3 separate regions of the Homo sapiens genome follow, and regions 1 and 3 are each linked to region 2. Evidence: fine-mapped expression QTL. A gene starts in region 2. Each other region holds a variant in brackets. All regions are shown on one strand. Distances are from middle to middle.

Region 1 (5,226 bases), 35 kb before region 2:
AGAGTGTCATTTCTAGTGCTTTCTGTTGGTCAAGGCAAGTCACAGGGCCAGCCCAGACTCAAGGGGAGGGGAAACAGACTCTACCCCTGGCTGAGTGGTGTGACTTGCACATGTGGTGAGGGGAGAAATTGATGGGCACCATCTGTGGGGACTGTCAGGGCACTCAGACTTCTGGCTGCCTATAGAGAGTAGAGAGTATAGAATTAGTGAGGGGAAACAGGATGGGAGCTAGGGAAGAACGAAACAGGACAAAGGTTTAGCTCAGACCTCTGAGGAAGACCTAGTGTCATGAAGTAAGGAATATGACCAATCTAACCTTTGTGTCTGAGGTACAAATAAACCCCAAATCAAAATCAACCAAATAAGGCCGGGCGCGATGGCTCACGCCTATAATCCCAGCACTTTGGGAGTTTGAGATGGGCGGATCACCTGAGGTCAGGAGTTCAAGACCAGCCTGGCCAACATGGTGAAAATACAAATAATTAGCCGGGCGTGGTGGTGCATGCCTGTAATCCCAGCTACTCAGGAGGCTGAGGCAGGAGAATCACTTGAACCCGGGAGGTGGAGGTTGCAGTGAGCTGAGATCGCGCCATTGCATTCCAGCCTGGGTGACAAGAGTGAAACTCTGTCTCAAAAAAAAAAAAAAAAAAAATCAATCAAAGAAAATAGGATTCCATAACCCAAAACAGAAAACCTCCAACAATATGGAAACTTCAGAAATAGTCCAAGTACATGTTAACTTCTAAGTTAAAATGATTTTCAAATAGGGAGAAAGAGAAGGACGCAGATGAGTCTGGCTTTCTCTGTCCCTTCTCTCCCTGTAGTGCCGTGAGTGGGGGTGTAAGTGACAAGCCCTGAAACGTGGAATTGGTTCAGTCAAAGGGGTGGCCAATGAGGATGGCCCCATCCCTGGTTGGCAGTTGGCAAAGCTTGACATGCAGTAGACAATCCATCTGTGAAGCTCTTACCTGTATCTCAGGACTAAATCCACATGCCCCTTAAGATGGGGGCTTCACAGCAGTGTTGTTCAGACTTTGAGTTGTGACCCATTAATGGACTGGGAAACTCAACAGAAGGCACGTAGTAAGGTGAGCATTGTCCCATCAAACTTTAGTGTCAACCGTGTATTTCCAAACGCATTATTCTATTCACTCACTCACTCAGTAGATACTTGTTGAGCAGCTACTGTGTGGCAGGCACTGGGGATCCAGGAGAAAGTAACACATACAAATGCACCTGTGTGTGCGGGTGCTTGTGTGTATGTTCTGGATCACAGCATGAAATTCGTCTCTCGCTGTGGGCTGCAGTCAGAGAGCCCAGCGGCTGCTGCTGCCTGGTGGCTGGGTGGGAATGTCAGGGTACTGGGGGGGTGGCTACTTCCCATGTGGGTCAGCAAGTTACAAGAACAGAAAAGGCCTCTGTTTGAATTCCTTTTCGGCACCCGGGGAAACGAGCAGCTTTATAAGAAACCCTGCCCGTAGCCATCCGCCCAAGTTTGGTGAGGGTCAGAAAATCATGCACAAAAACTGTGTTTTCTTTCCCGAGCTATTGTTAGCGCAAGTGTAGACAGTCAGCCACGTTCCTTGCTTCATGGAAGCCAGTCTTCCTCGTAGGACCATGAAGACCTTTTCTTTTCTTTTTCTTTCTTTCTTTTTTTTTTCTTTGAGATGGAGTTTCTCTCTTGTTGCCCAGGCTGGAGTGCAATGGCGCAATCTTGGCTAATGCAACCTCCGCCTCCCAGGTTCAATCGATTCTCCTGCCTCAGCGTCCTGAGTAGCTGGGATTACAGGCCCCTGCCACCACGCCCGGCTAATTTTTGTATTTTAGTAGAGACAGAGTTTCACCATGTTGGCCAGGCTGGTCTCGAACTCCTGACCTCAGGTGATCCACCCACGTCGGCTTCCCAAAATGCTGGGATTACAGGCGTGAGCCACCGTGCCCGGCCAGACCTTTTGTTATGATGTTATTTTCCCCTCTTTACTCCATTTTGCTTTGCCAGTTTCTCTACTCACCTGGGCCACCACCTAGAGCAAGTTGCCTCATCTCTCCGAGGCTCCGCTTCCGAACCCTGTGAAATGGGAGTAACAGAAGTCCTGCCTCGTGGGGGTGTTGTGCTGTGATAAATGAAGAAACACCTTGGAGAATTTAGGGCAGTGGCTGGGCCTGAGGACAGTGTTTGTGTTGCCTGGGCTGGGGCAGGGTCTGGGCCGGACGGGGCTCTCTGAGGTTGGATTCCTCCTGCGAGGAGAGCTGTTTTTCTGCAAAGCCCCTTCCTCCTCCTGCTGAAGCTTCTGGATTTGAGAGGCTTTACTCTCCAGGAGAGTGAAGCGAGTTGGGCCAGAGCTGAGAGTCTGGTGGCCGAGCCCACAGGAAGCTGGGGTCTGTGGTTCAGATGC[C/A]GGATTGGGCAAGAGTAGAGAACTGGTCGCTGTGATCCTGGTCAGGGATATTTGGAGACACCCACAGTTCTGGTAAATTCGGAGGCAGGAAGTGAGAGGGGGAGGGAGAGAGGGAAACGGCAAACTGCACCCCAGCCCCTCCTGGCCTGGCACCCCTTCCAAATGGTGCAATGAGTGGGGTGAGTGGCGTGTGGAGTTGAGCGCAGCCCAGGGGACCCCCCTCTCTGGGAATAAGAACAGAGATAGCCCCGTCCCCTGCCCCCACCCCACAAATGAGTTACAGCTCTGTTTCCTCTTCTGTTTACTGTCCAAAGTCCCAGGCCAGGAGGTGCCAGGTTAGAGCTTGGACACTCAGACCCTCCAGTGCAGGCCTTGCCCGGACCAGCCCCTCCTCCACTCTCCTCTCCCCTGTGAGCTCCACCTGCCCCAGTTCTCCTGGCTTTAACCCCTCCTTGGCCAAGGCCAGGGTTGCCTGCGGGAGCCAGGTGTCCGCTCTCCACACCTTTCACAGGTAACTGAGGCTGGGGAGGCAACTGGGACGAGGATGCTTGGGAACAAGGAGGCCTTGGTTCAGGGATGGGGAGGACCCCATGGGAAGCTGTGGGTGGTCGGGTCCATGAGCGTGGGGAGGGGTCTCCTGGCCAGGTCAAGGCCCAAGCGGTCTCCTGAGAAGGGAAAGGACCCAGCGGGATTTCAAACCTCATCCCAAACGCCCTGCCAACCTCAGATCCTACCCAGGCCACCACCCCGAACCCCTCCGACCCTGCGTTCCATCCCACCATCAACCTCCACGTGAATCTGCACCTCTGCCCCAGCCCCAGCCCTCAGAGCAACCTCAGCCCAGCCCAGCCCAGCTCCAGCTCCAGCTCCAGCCCGGGCCCCATCATGGCCAAGGACTTTCAAGATATCCAGCAGCTGAGCTCGGAGGAAAATGACCATCCTTTCCATCAAGGTGAGGGGCCAGGCACTCGCAGGCTGAATCCCAGGAGAGGAAATCCATTTTTGAAAGGCAAGTGTGCAGTTTCTGCGGCTTTGCTCCCCCTCTGTCTCAGCTCATGATTGCTCTGTCCCTTTGAGGTCTCTGCCGCACCCACTCTGTGAACAGGGACTGAGGAGGGCCCGACACCCCCGCTTGTTCCCTCACCTCACCTTCCTGTCTACCCCAGGACCCCAGGAAAGGCATGTGCCAGAGGTGTGGGGAGATCTGGAAGATAACTGCCTGCCCTTCTCCTCCCAACCCAAGAACACATGTGCCTCGTATGTGCGTGTGCACGTATGTGCATATGAGGAATGCAGATTCAGCTGGGACTCTGTGTGTGTGTGTGAGTGAATGTTGTGTGTGTGTATATGTGCGCGAGAGCGTGCATATGTTGTGTGTGTGTATGTCGTGTATGTGAGAGGGTATGTTGTGTGTGAGAGTGTGTTGTGTGTGTATGTTGTGTGAGTATATGTTGTGTGTATCTTGTGTGTGAGTGTATGTTGTGTGTTGTGTGTGTATCTTGTGCATGTGTGTATGTTGTGCGAGTGTATGTTGTGTATGTGAGTGTGTGTATGTTGTGTGTATGTTGTGTGTATGTATGTTGTGTATGAGTGTGTGTATGTTGTGTGTGTGTACGTTGTGTATGTTGTGTGTGTGTTGTGTGTGTGTATTGTGTGAGTGTATGTATGTTTGTGTGTTGTGTGAGTGTTGTGTATGTTGTGCGTGTGTGTATGTTGTGCGAGTGTGTGTGTTGTGTGTGTATGTTGTGAGTGTGTTATGTATGTTGTGTGTGTGAGTGTGTTGCGTGAGTGTGTGTGTTAGTGTGTGTATGTGATTGTATGTGTGTGTGTGTGTGTGTGTAGAGGTGGGGTGAGTTGGGATGGGTGGGGGACGTGAGCACAGAGAGATCCTGGAAGATCCCTGCTCCTCTCATCTCCCAAGACCCTTCCCTGGATCCTTCTGTAATAAATCTTGACTGAAGGACCTAAGTATCTTGGACATTTTTTTTTTAGAGACAGGAGTGTAGTGGCAGGATCATAGCTCACTGCAACCTCGAACTCCTGGGCTCAAGCCATCCTCCCACCTCAGCCTCCCAAGTAGTTAGGACTTACAGGTGTGCACCACTGTGCCTGGCAAATTAAAAAAAATTTTTTAGAGAAATGGGGTCTTGCTATGTTGCCCAGGCTGGTGGGAAAAGATTTTAAGGTGAGAGAGATCTGAGCAGTGCTAGGCAGAAGGGCAAGAGCCAGGAATGGAGGAGTGTCAGGTGTGTGGGTGCTGGTGGTGGAGCCGGGTTCCATGGAGGCAGGAGGAGCAGGGGCTTGGAGCTTAGGAAGGGGATTGGTTAGCTGGGCTGGAATGAGGGACTCCTCATTCCTGAGGCTGGCCAACCGAGGGAGGGCCGGTGCTGGGCAGGGCAGGGCAGGGGACAGGAGGGATAGGAGGTCCCTCCCGAGGACCACTCAGGAACACCAGTAGCATCTCCTCTCTCTGTAGGGGGCTGGCTGGACTTCCCACCAGGCGGTGTCCCCACAGGCAGAGGCCCTGTCCGCCTCACTCTCCTCTGCAACTCCAGTGCCCACACGGCACCCGGTACATAGTGAACACTCAGAGAGAATACGGGATGCTGCTGAATCTTCTGAGGGTGACAGAATTTAGAGTTTGAGCAGGAGGCTTGGAGAGAGGCCAGGATTTCTGAAATTAATGGGAGAGTGAGCTCACGCGAATGGGCTGAGGGACACCAGTGAGGGACCGTCTGAAGGGATGTAGCAAAGTCACCGCATTTCCCTCCAGCAGCCCGGGTGGTGGGGGCTGGGGGAACGTCATCATGGGAGCTGACACTGATCAGCT
Region 2 (5,226 bases):
GAATACTATGCAGCCATAAAAAAGAATGAGTTCATGTCCTTTGCAGGGACATAGATGAAGCTGGAAACCATCATTCTCAGCAAAGTAACACAGGAACAGAACACCAAACACCGCATGTTCTCACTCATAACCGGGAGCTGAACAATGAGAACACATGGATACAGGGAGGGGAACATCACACACCAGGGTCTGTCAGGGGGTGGGCGGCAAGGGGAGGGAGAGCATTAGGACAAATACCTAATGTATGCGGGCCTTAAAACCTAGGTGATGGGTTGATAGGTGCAGCAAACCACCATGGCACACGTATACCTACGTAACAAACCTGCACATTCTGCACATGTATCCCAGAACTAAAAAAAAAAAAAGAAGCTTCAAACCCACTGAACCAGACTGAAAAAAAAAAGTTAGTGAATGGAGAAATATCATGTTCTTTTCATGGAAGATTCAACAATGTCAAAATGTTGATTATCTCCAAATTAATATGTGAATACACTGCAAGACTGTGGTAGACACACAGAGAGCTACCCAGGTCCCCCTTCTAGGAAGGATGTGGTGACCCACTGTGGGGAGTGTAACCTGCAGACAGCTGCTTCCTGAGGTCACACCCATGTCAGGGCTGACTGCCAGTGACCGAAGGAGCTGGTGCTCTACAGGACCCTGTGGCAGTCCAATGCTGGACAGCTCCCGGGGGTGGCATTGTTTGAACCCAGAGCTCCCTGTTGGTTTGGTTGAAGCTCTCCAAAGTGCTGGGCTTCTCCCTCTGCCCAGCACCATTTCATCCACTTTCCTTTTCGAAGTGCTAATCCCTAATAAATAGCTTGTACCCCAAATTCAGCCTCAACCTTGGCTTCCAAAAACCGAACCTGCGACATATACTAATCAAAATACCGAATACCAAATAAAAACAAAACTGGCAACGACCTGGCCGGGTGCGGTGGCTCGCGCCTGTAATCCCTGCACTTTGGGAGGCTGAGGCGGGCAGATCATGTGAGGTCAGGAGGTCAAGACCAGCCTGGCCAATATGGTGAAACCCCTCTCTACTAAAAATACAAGAATTAGCTGGGTGTGGTGGCGGGACCTGTAATCTCGGCTACTCGGGAGGCTGAGGCAGGAGAATCGCTTAAACCCAGGAGATGCAGTAGCCGAGATTGTGTCACTGCACTCCAGCCTGGGCAACAGAGTGAGACTCTGTCTCAAAAAAATAAATAAATAAATAAAATAAAAAAGAAAAGAAAAAGAAACAACTTAAATTTCTGATTTATTTCTGTCAATAGAGAAATGCTAAATAAATAAATTACGGTGCCTATGATGAAATGAGGTGCAGGTAGATCAAGTACATTTTATAAACTGATGTGGAGAAATGTTCCTGATAGCTTGTTAACTCCAAAAAAAAAAAAAAAAAGCACATAGCAGAACACAACCCCATGTACATACAAAATATAACCTAAAATGTATTTCTTCTCCTTCTCCACCTTGTAAGATACTCAGTTTCCTTCCTACTGAAAGGGATGTGCGCGTGGATTCAGGGCAGCTCCCTTAGGGGTTGAGCAGGGATCATGGGATGAAATGGAATCCTGTTCATGAAGACAGCGCCTGTGCTGAGAGCCAGAGCAGGGTGCCAAACTGTCTCCTTACAAGCTGTGAGTGATCTTGGGCTCTGAGCCTTTAGTCCGTCATCCAAAATGCCTCCCCAGGTGCTTGGGGGGAATGGTTGTGGAAGGTAAATGTCTGGCATAATCCTATCACAGATTACTCAATAAAATTTGCTCTTTTCCTTGGCTTCTCCCGTCCTATTAGGGCCAAGAAGTTCTATTCTCTGGCACCCCCTTCCCTCCTTCCGAGTGGAGTGAGGCGAGCGAGGCCACAGCTGAGCAGCCGAATGACTGGGACCCAGAGGATGCTGATGCCAGGGACTCAGGCCAGGATTGAGCAAGAGAACAGACTGGGCTTCTCTAGGATCAGAGGTGCGATGATGGAGACCCAACAATTCTGGGAAATGTAGAGGCAGGAAGTGAAAGGAAGTGTAGGGTAGAGGAGCAACAGCAGATTGTACCTCTGATCCAGCCCTGCTCCCAGATGGTAAAAATGAGGAAGCTCCGAGAAGAGGAAAGGAAGTAGGCATGGCCTGGAGGAGGAGAACAGAGCTGGCCTCAAACCCAACTCTCCCCACCCACACATGGTCTCTGTGTGTTCTAATCCCTGTTCATTCTCATTTACTGTCTAAAGTTGAGGAGATGGGATGTCCCAGATGATAGGGCTCCTGGGATTTCAGACCCAAGACCAGCAGGACTCCAGTCACCTCTACCCCAGCTCTCCAGGACACAGCGCTCCCAACTCTGAGTGACGTCCCACCTCTGGTCCTTGCAGCACAACCAACGTGGGAATCACACCCTCCAGACCTCCCACAGGTAATGGTGCTGCCGGTGCCGGTGAGACCCAGGGGACAGGGGATGTCAGAGGAAGCAGGGAGAGGGGGACTTTGGGTCTTGGGTGGGACTAAATGAAAATAAATATAAGGCGGCAGTGTGGGGTTTAATTACTACGTGGAGATTTGAGACTCTGTTCCCTTCACTGGATTCTAGATTGGGTTACGGCAGCCACAATCCCCTGTCATAAACTAAGACTCCGGGAGCTGAGGCAGGAGAATCTTGTGAACCCAGGAGGCAGAGGTTGCAGTGAGCCGAGACGGCCTCGTTGCACAACAGCCTGGGCGACAAGAACGAAATTCCATCTCAAAAAATAAATAAATAAAAATAAAAATAAACTAAGACTCAGACTCAGCCTCATTGGTGGCCCATTTCCAGCCTTATCTTCATCTCAGCCCAGCCATGCCCTAATCCCAATACTAACCCCAGCTTCTACATTTTCTTTTTTTTTGAGACTGAGTCTCACTGTGTCGTCCAGGCTGGAGTGCAACGGCACAACCTCGGCTCACTGCCACCTCTGCCTCCTGGGTTCAAGTGATTCTCCTGCCTCAGCCTCCCAAGTAGCTGGGATTACAGGCGCACACCACCACACCCAGCTAATTTTTGTATTTTTAGTAGAGATGGGGTTTCACCATGTTGGCCAGGCCGGTCTCAAACTCCTGACCTAAAGTGATCTGTCTGCTTCGGTCTCCCAAAGTGCTGGGATTTATAGGCGTGAGCCACCGCACCTGTCGCCCCCCACCCAGCTCCTACTTCAACCCCAACCCCAGAATCAACTTGAATTTTAACACCAGCCCAAAGCCAAAATTGAACCTCGACTCTATTCTGTTTCCAAATTCACCACCAAAGTTAACCCCAATTCCATCCATGGCTCCAACGTGCATACTGACCCCAATCCTAGCATGAGATACAACCTCCAGTCCTGCCTGATTAACTGGCCCACTGGGTAGTCCTAGCAATGCGTTTAGCTCCAACGTTACCCTCCAGTTTCACTCCCAAACTCAACTCGACCCCAATTCTAACTCGACTGCAAACCCAGGCTCATTTCCGTCTTAACCCTGGGCTCATTCTCAACCTGAGCCTCATCTCCCAACTCAACGTCAGCCCTGCCCTTGGCTCCAACTTAGTCCCAACCTCCTATTCCCCAGCTCCACCCCAGACTGGGCGCCGGCCCTGCCTCCATTTCAGCTGTGACAACCTCAGAGCCGTGTTGGCCCAAGCATGACAAGGACGTATGAAAACTTCCAGTACTTGGAGAATAAGGTGAAAGTCCAGGGGTTTAAAAATGGTAAGAGGAAAGGGGAAACTCTCCTAAAATGCCCTCTTTATATGTTTAGAAGGATTTCTCCTATCATTTCTGTACCTCCACCACGCGCACTGGTGGGTCCTAACTCTGAGGAGGTCAGGCCCCAGCCTCTGACGGGCCTAGTGTGAAGAGGATGCAAGGTCTCTAGAAAGACTGGGACAGGGAGGATCACAGTGGACCCAGCTTCTGATGCTCTGTGGGGTGGGGATGAGAGCTGCGCATTGGTGGAGGGAAAGATAAGTAGTTGGGTTTGGAAGGAAACTCATTTGTGAACCTGATTGTCCAGCAGGTAGGTGAGCATAAGCCCATGAAGGGCTGGCTGCCCCCAGCTCTCCCTGTGTCCTCCTGCCCCTGCCCCCAGCTCTGACCATGGGACCCCTCATATCGCTATCACGTGGGTCCCCAGGGGTGTGAGGGGCCTGTGTGACTGAGGACTTGTGCTGGTCCCTGAAGTCAAAGGCCTGGGCATCCCCCACCCCAAAATCCTCCTTGTCCAACCCTCCCCTGGAGTCCCCTGTGCCCAGCCCTCCTCACTAGACAGCTCCCTGGGCCCTCTCCTTCTCCCGTCTCCGGTGTCTGGACCCTCCTCATCCTGACACTCTCTCCTCTTGCAGGGCCACTTCCTCTCCAGTCCCTCCTGCAGCGTCTCTGCTCTGGGCCCTGCCATCTCCTGCTGTCCCTGGGCCTCGGCCTCCTGCTGCTGGTCATCATCTGTGTGGTTGGATTCCAAAGTGAGGGTCACAGGGGTGGACAGGGAAGAGAGAAATAATGGGGTAGAAGATAAATAATGGGGTGCTACAGTAGGGCAGTGGTGGGGCGATGGTGAGGTCCACAGTAGGAGCAATGCAGGGCACAGTGTTGGGGGCAGCTGTGGAGATAACAATGGGGCATGGTGAGGGCAGTGCTACCAACAGTCATGGGGGTCACAACAGAGCCACTGAAGCACTGATGGGGCACTGATGGAGTGATTGATGGGAATGGAGGAGAGGGCACTGATGGAGTGATTGATGGTAACGGTAGGGGGGCACTGATGGAGTGATTGATGGGGACGGTGGTGGGGGCACAGACGGAGTGATTTATGGGAATGGTGGGGGGCATTGATGGAGTGATTGATGGGAATGGTTGGGGGTCACTGATGGAGTCATTGATGGGAATGGTGGGGGGGCACTGATGGAGTGATTGATAGGAACGGTGGGGGGTCACTGATGGGGTGATTGATGGGAATGGTGGTGGGGGTCACTGATGGAGTGATTGTTGGGAATGGTGGGGGGCACTGATGCAGTGATCGATGGGAATGGTGATGGGAGCACTGATGGGGTGACTGATGGGAATAGTGGGGGGCACTGATGGAGTGATTGATGAGAACAGTGGTCGGAGCACTGATGGAGTGATTGATGGGAATGGTGATGGGGGCACTGATGGAGTGATTGATGGGAATGGTGGGGGGGCACTGATGGAGTGATTGATGGGGACGGTGGTGGGGGTAGTGATGGA
Region 3 (5,226 bases), 20 kb before region 2:
CTTAGAAGCTCCCGGGCCTGACAGATCTCAGGAAATGACAGCTACACATAGAAGCGAGAGCTACCAGGGGCCAATGTACTTGAGAGGCCAGTGAAACTGAGATCTTCAGTGGGTCTGGGGTCTGGGGGGCAGTAAGAGCAGGGACCAGGGTCGGGATCCCAGGAGTTCGAGGCTGTGGGCAGAAGACAGGGAGAGAACCGGAACTTGGGTAGAGCCATAAGCTGGGAATGAAGGGGGACACCGGCCCAGGGCTGTGAACAGGGGACAGTGGCCACTAACTCAGGTACAGGATTGGCTCTCTGGCTCTGCAACTCCCTGCAAAATGTGGTCACTGCAGTGCCCATCTTAGAGAGCTTCTGAGGATTAAATGAGATCATCTTTGCACAGACAGCACGAAGTCTAGCCTAGCAAATGTGCACTGAACAGTAGCTAGAGTGACGGAAGAAAAAGCTAGGAAGCAGTCTTGTCGGGAGCTGGTGCTTCAGCCTGAGGGCAGATCAGGCTGGGGAAGGCTGAGAGGGGCCACAGTTCCATGCCTGCATGGAGGGAGGAGAAAGGCACAAGAGACTAGAAATTTCCTGTTTGCCTGTGTTTCCAGAAATTCATTGTACAACACACGAACCCCTTCAATACCTGGATAGGTCTCACGGACAGTGATGGCTCTTGGAAATGGGTGGATGGCACAGACTATAGGCACAACTACAAGTAAGTGGCCTCTTCCCTCATCTCCTTGTTAGATTTCTCTGGGGACAGCCCCCTGGCCTTTCACTCCAAGCTACCCTGACTCGTCCCTCAGGGACCAAATTCCCCAATCCTCTCCTCCCCAGACTCCAACCCCTCCAAAGCTGTGCTCTTCTGGGCTGGGGGTGAGGGTTGCTGGGACTGGGCATAGGAAACATCTTTCTCTGCGGTTGGGTTCTCCCCAGACTGGGTAGCAGGGCACACCCCAGCTCCACTCTCGGCCTTCAAGGAAAATGGTCATGAAGAGGAGGAGGATGGGTAAGTCGCTTTCTCACCACCGTGGCAGAGTCCGAGTTTTCTCTTGCCTCCTTAGGAACTGGGCTGTCACTCAGCCAGATAATTGGCACGGGCACGAGCTGGGTGGAAGTGAAGACTGTGTTGAAGTCCAGCCGGATGGCCGCTGGAACGATGACTTCTGCCTGCAGGTGTACCGCTGGGTGTGTGAGAAAAGGCGGAATGCCACCGGCGAGGTGGCCTGACCCCAGCACACCTCTGGCTAACCCATACCCCACACCTGCCCAGCTCTGGCTTCTCTGTTGAGGATTTTGAGGAAAGGAAGAAACACTGAGACAGGGGTATGGGGAAGAGCTGAGCAAAGAGAGAAAGGAGGTAGTTTAAGAGTCCCTGACCCTGGAGGACTGAGATCCCACCTCCTTCTGTAATTCATTGTAATTATTATAATCGTCAGCCTCTTCAATGGCGTAGGAAAGAAGAAACAAATGCTTGAATCTCTGTGTGGCCTGGTTATTGGGAACTGAGAAACAGCATGCAAAGAGGAGGGAGAGGGGAGGGCATGGAAGACGCAAGGCGCGCATCCTAGACAGCTGCTCCTTGGTCCCTAATCCCGAGGGACATTGGTCAGGGAAACGGGAAAGGGGCTTGGAGCAGACAGGCTTAGTGGCTGGCACTGGTGGGAAAGGGGTCGGCCGGGCTGTGGCTGGAGGGTCCGCCTGGCTCCCAGTGAGAGGTGACAGCGTGCTGGCAGTCCTCACAGCCCTCGCTCGCTCTCGGCGCCTCCTCTGCCTGGGCTCCCACTTTGGCGGCACTTGAGGAGCCCTTCATCCCGCCGCTGCACTGTGGGAGCCCCTTTCCGGGCTGGCCAAGGCCGGAGCCGGCTCCCTCAGCTTGCAGGGAGGTGTGGAGGGAGCGGCGCTTGCGGGCCAGCGCGATTTCCGGGTGGGCGTGGACTCGGCGGACCCCGCACTCGGAGTGGCCGGCCTGCCCCACCGGCCGCGGGCAGTGATGGGCTTAGCACCTGAGCCAGCAGCTGCTGTGCTCAATTTCTCGCCACGCCTTAGCTGCCTTCCCGCGGGGCAGGGCTTGGGACCCGCAGCCCGCCATGCCTGAGCCTCCCCGACCCCCGCTCCGTGGGCTCCTGTGCGGCCCGAGCCTCCCCGACCAGCGCCGCCCCCTGCTCCAGGGCGCGCTCAGTGCCATCGACCACCCAAGGGCTGAGGAGTGCGGGCGCAGGGCGCGGGACTGGCAGGCAGCTCCACCTGCGGCCCCAGTGCAGGATCCATGGGGTGAAGCCAGCGGGGCTCCTGAGTCTGGTGGGGACTTGAAGAACCTTTATGTCTAGCTAAGGGATTGTAAATGCACCAATTGGCACTCTGTATCTAGCTCAAGGTTTGTAAACACACCAATCAGCACCCTGTGTCTAGCTCAGGGTTTGTGAATGCACCAATTGACACTCTGTATCTAGCTACTCTGGTCGGGAAGTCGAG[A/C]ACCTTTGTGCCTAGCTCAGGGATTGTAAACGCACCAATCAGGCCAGATAAGAGAATAAAAGCAGGCTGCCCCAGCCAGCAGCGGCAACCCACTCGGGTCCCCTGCCACACTGTGGAAGCTTTGTTCTTTCGCTCTTTGCAATAAATCTTGCTGCTGCTCACTCTTTGGGTCCACACTGCCTTAAGAGCTGTAACACTCACCACGAAGTTCCGCAGCTTCACTCCTGAGCCAGTGAGACCATGAACCTACCAGAAGGAAGAAACTCTGAAGACATCTGAACATCAGAAGGAACAAACTCCAGACACGCCGCCTTTAAGAACTGTAACACTCACCGCGAGGGTCCGCGGCTTCATTCTTGAAGTCAGTGAGACCAAGAACCCACCAATTCCGGACACACCAGGGCTCCCAAAGGAAACATCTTTCTCTGCGGTTGGGTTCTCCCCAGACCGGGTCGCAGGGCATACCCCAGCTCCACTCTCAGCCTTCAAGGAAAATGGTCACGACGAGGAGGAGGATGGGTAAGTCACTTTCTCACCACCGTGGCTCTGTCTTTTTGACCCCAAGCGGATCTAGACATATCTTCAACACAGGGTGTCACCAACAATCTCCACAGTGGGCAAACTTCCCGCTCCAAGAACATTCTGAAACTGACCTTAAAAAGACTATTCAGCGGTTATATTATTTATTTAAGTTGGAGTCTTGCTGTGTTGCCCAGGCTGGAGTGCAATGGTGCGGTCTTGGCTCACTGCAACCTCCACCTCCCGGGTTCAAGCGATTCTTCTGCCTCAGCCTCCCGAGTAGCTGGGATTACAGGCATGCGCCACCACACCCAGCTAATTTTTGTATTTTTAGTAGAAACAGCGTTTCGCCATGTTGGCCAGGCTGATCTTGAACTCCTGACCTCGGGTGATCCGCCCGCCTCTGCCTTCCAAAGTGCTGGGATTATAGGCATGAGCCACGGGGCCCGGCCCCATATTTTTAAATTTTTAAAGTACAGAAGTAATACATTCTATTAGTAAAAAAATGTTTTAAATGACACACACACACGCACGCACACGAGTGTCCTCTCAGTCCTCCTCCGTCTCCCCAGAGTCAACTCTTTCCTGTGTCCCCTGCCAGAGCCCTTCCTGTGTACATGAGTAGATGCAATATTATGTCATTACATAGTGCCTGTTCCGCTTCACAGTGTCTCGTGGACACCAGTCTAATCTATGCCATTACCTGGCAGGTTTTACCTCCTTGGATTTAGCAGCTGTAGAGAATTCCAAAGTAGGGATGTACCATGCATTATGTAATCATTCTCTGTAGGGGGCAAGTAGTTACCACTTTTGTTTCTTTGTTTTCACATAGAATGTTTCAAAGTAATTTTTTTGCTCATAAGCTTGGGATAGGTCAAGACTTCCCACTTTTCAGTTGAAAAATTTTCTAGGATTGCCCCTTCAAAATGTACACGATTGGGATTAAATTTAAAAAACCGTGAAAATAGGCTGGGTGCAATGGCTCATGCCTATAATCTTAGCATTTTGAGAGGCTGAGGTGGTGGGTCGCCTGAGCTCAGGAGTTTGAGACTAGCCTGGGCAATATGGCGAAACCCAGTCTGTACAACATGCACACACACACACACACACCCCAGCTGGATGTGGTGGTGCATCCCTGCAGTCCCAGCTACTTGGGAGGCTGAGATGAGGGGATAGTTTGAGCCCAGGAAATTGAAGCTGCAGTGAGCTGTGACTGTGTCACTACACTGCAGCCTGGGTAAGACAGCGAGATCTTTTCTCAAAAAATAAATTATGGAAGTAATAATACACTCTAAAGTTTTATAGGACTAGAATTTTTATAGAAAAGTAGAAATTTTATAAAGTCTATAAAACTAGAAGTATAAAGTCTATAAAACTAGAAGTTTTACAGGGCTCTAGGTTACTTGACCTGCCCCCTTTAGCTCCTCTTGCTGCCTGGAGAAACTGCTTTCAGTGATTCTAGCTGTTTCTTCTAGTACTGACATCTGCAGTTCTAAGTAAGACACACAAACTGATATTTCATCTTCGTATGAGTTGTAGACATTATTTAGTCGCTATCATGTAAACGAGGTAAAATCTTCCAATGTAGTCTACAATTTATATTTAAATACTACTTTAAAATTTGTATCAGTTGTATCTGTGTCAATATGGTTACTGCTGAGTCAACTACTATAATCTGATTACATTCCCTTTCTTGCACAACTCTCATTTCTTCTGAAAGTAGTCAGTATTCCATTAAAAAAATTTGCCTCATATTCTTTTAACTTATTGCTGAGTCTTCCTGAACTGTAAAAAGCTTGACAATATAATTTTTCCAGACGTGCAAACCAGTCGTATAATCAGTATTTTAGTTGTACTTGGTGTACTTTTTCCTAGAGCCAGAGAAGTGATTCCAAGTTTTATGGGGCCTGAGGTGTACACAATTTTGGGGAGCCCTCTGTAAGAACAATTACAAAATTATGGATATAAAATTAAGCATAAAAATTACCATTTATTTAAATTTAAAAAGTCACAAATTTCAAAAGCAGAGAGCTACCAGAAACATCACAGAATCTAGAAAATGCTATATATACATATATATATAAATTGTATGTGTACATATACATATATATGTGTATACACACACACACACACACATATATATATATATATATTTTTTTTTTTTTTTTGAGACAAAGTCTCGCTCTGTCACCCAGGCTGGAGTGCAGTGGCATGATCATGGCTCTCTGCAGCCTCAAACACC

What was found.
Region 1: its variant is fine-mapped to the expression of CLEC10A in whole blood (TOPMed, PIP above 0.99).
Region 3: its variant is fine-mapped to the expression of CLEC10A in whole blood (TOPMed, PIP above 0.99). The same link has a PIP of 0.9 or more in blood mononuclear cells.

The regions. Positions count from the first base shown.
Region 1 is chr17:7,112,296-7,117,521 of GRCh38, reverse strand. ASGR2 (asialoglycoprotein receptor 2) reads left to right here and starts at 2,700. Exons shown (of 9, transcript NM_001201352.2): 1 at 2,700-2,907; 2 at 3,212-3,405. The coding sequence starts at 3,282. RefSeq lists enhancers at 1,762-2,548, 4,354-4,854. The variant C/A (reference allele first, on the strand shown) is at 2,397.
Region 2 is chr17:7,077,234-7,082,459 of GRCh38, reverse strand. CLEC10A (C-type lectin domain containing 10A) reads left to right here and starts at 2,209. Exons shown (of 9, transcript NM_001330070.2): 1 at 2,209-2,408; 2 at 3,575-3,714; 3 at 4,347-4,463. The coding sequence starts at 3,648.
Region 3 is chr17:7,097,569-7,102,794 of GRCh38, reverse strand. ASGR2 (asialoglycoprotein receptor 2) reads left to right here. Exons shown (of 9, transcript NM_001201352.2): 8 at 599-705; 9 at 1,055-1,469. The coding sequence ends at 1,220. Among named protein-coding and RNA genes, the nearest start is that of ASGR2, 15 kb to the left of the region's middle. The variant A/C (reference allele first, on the strand shown) is at 2,466.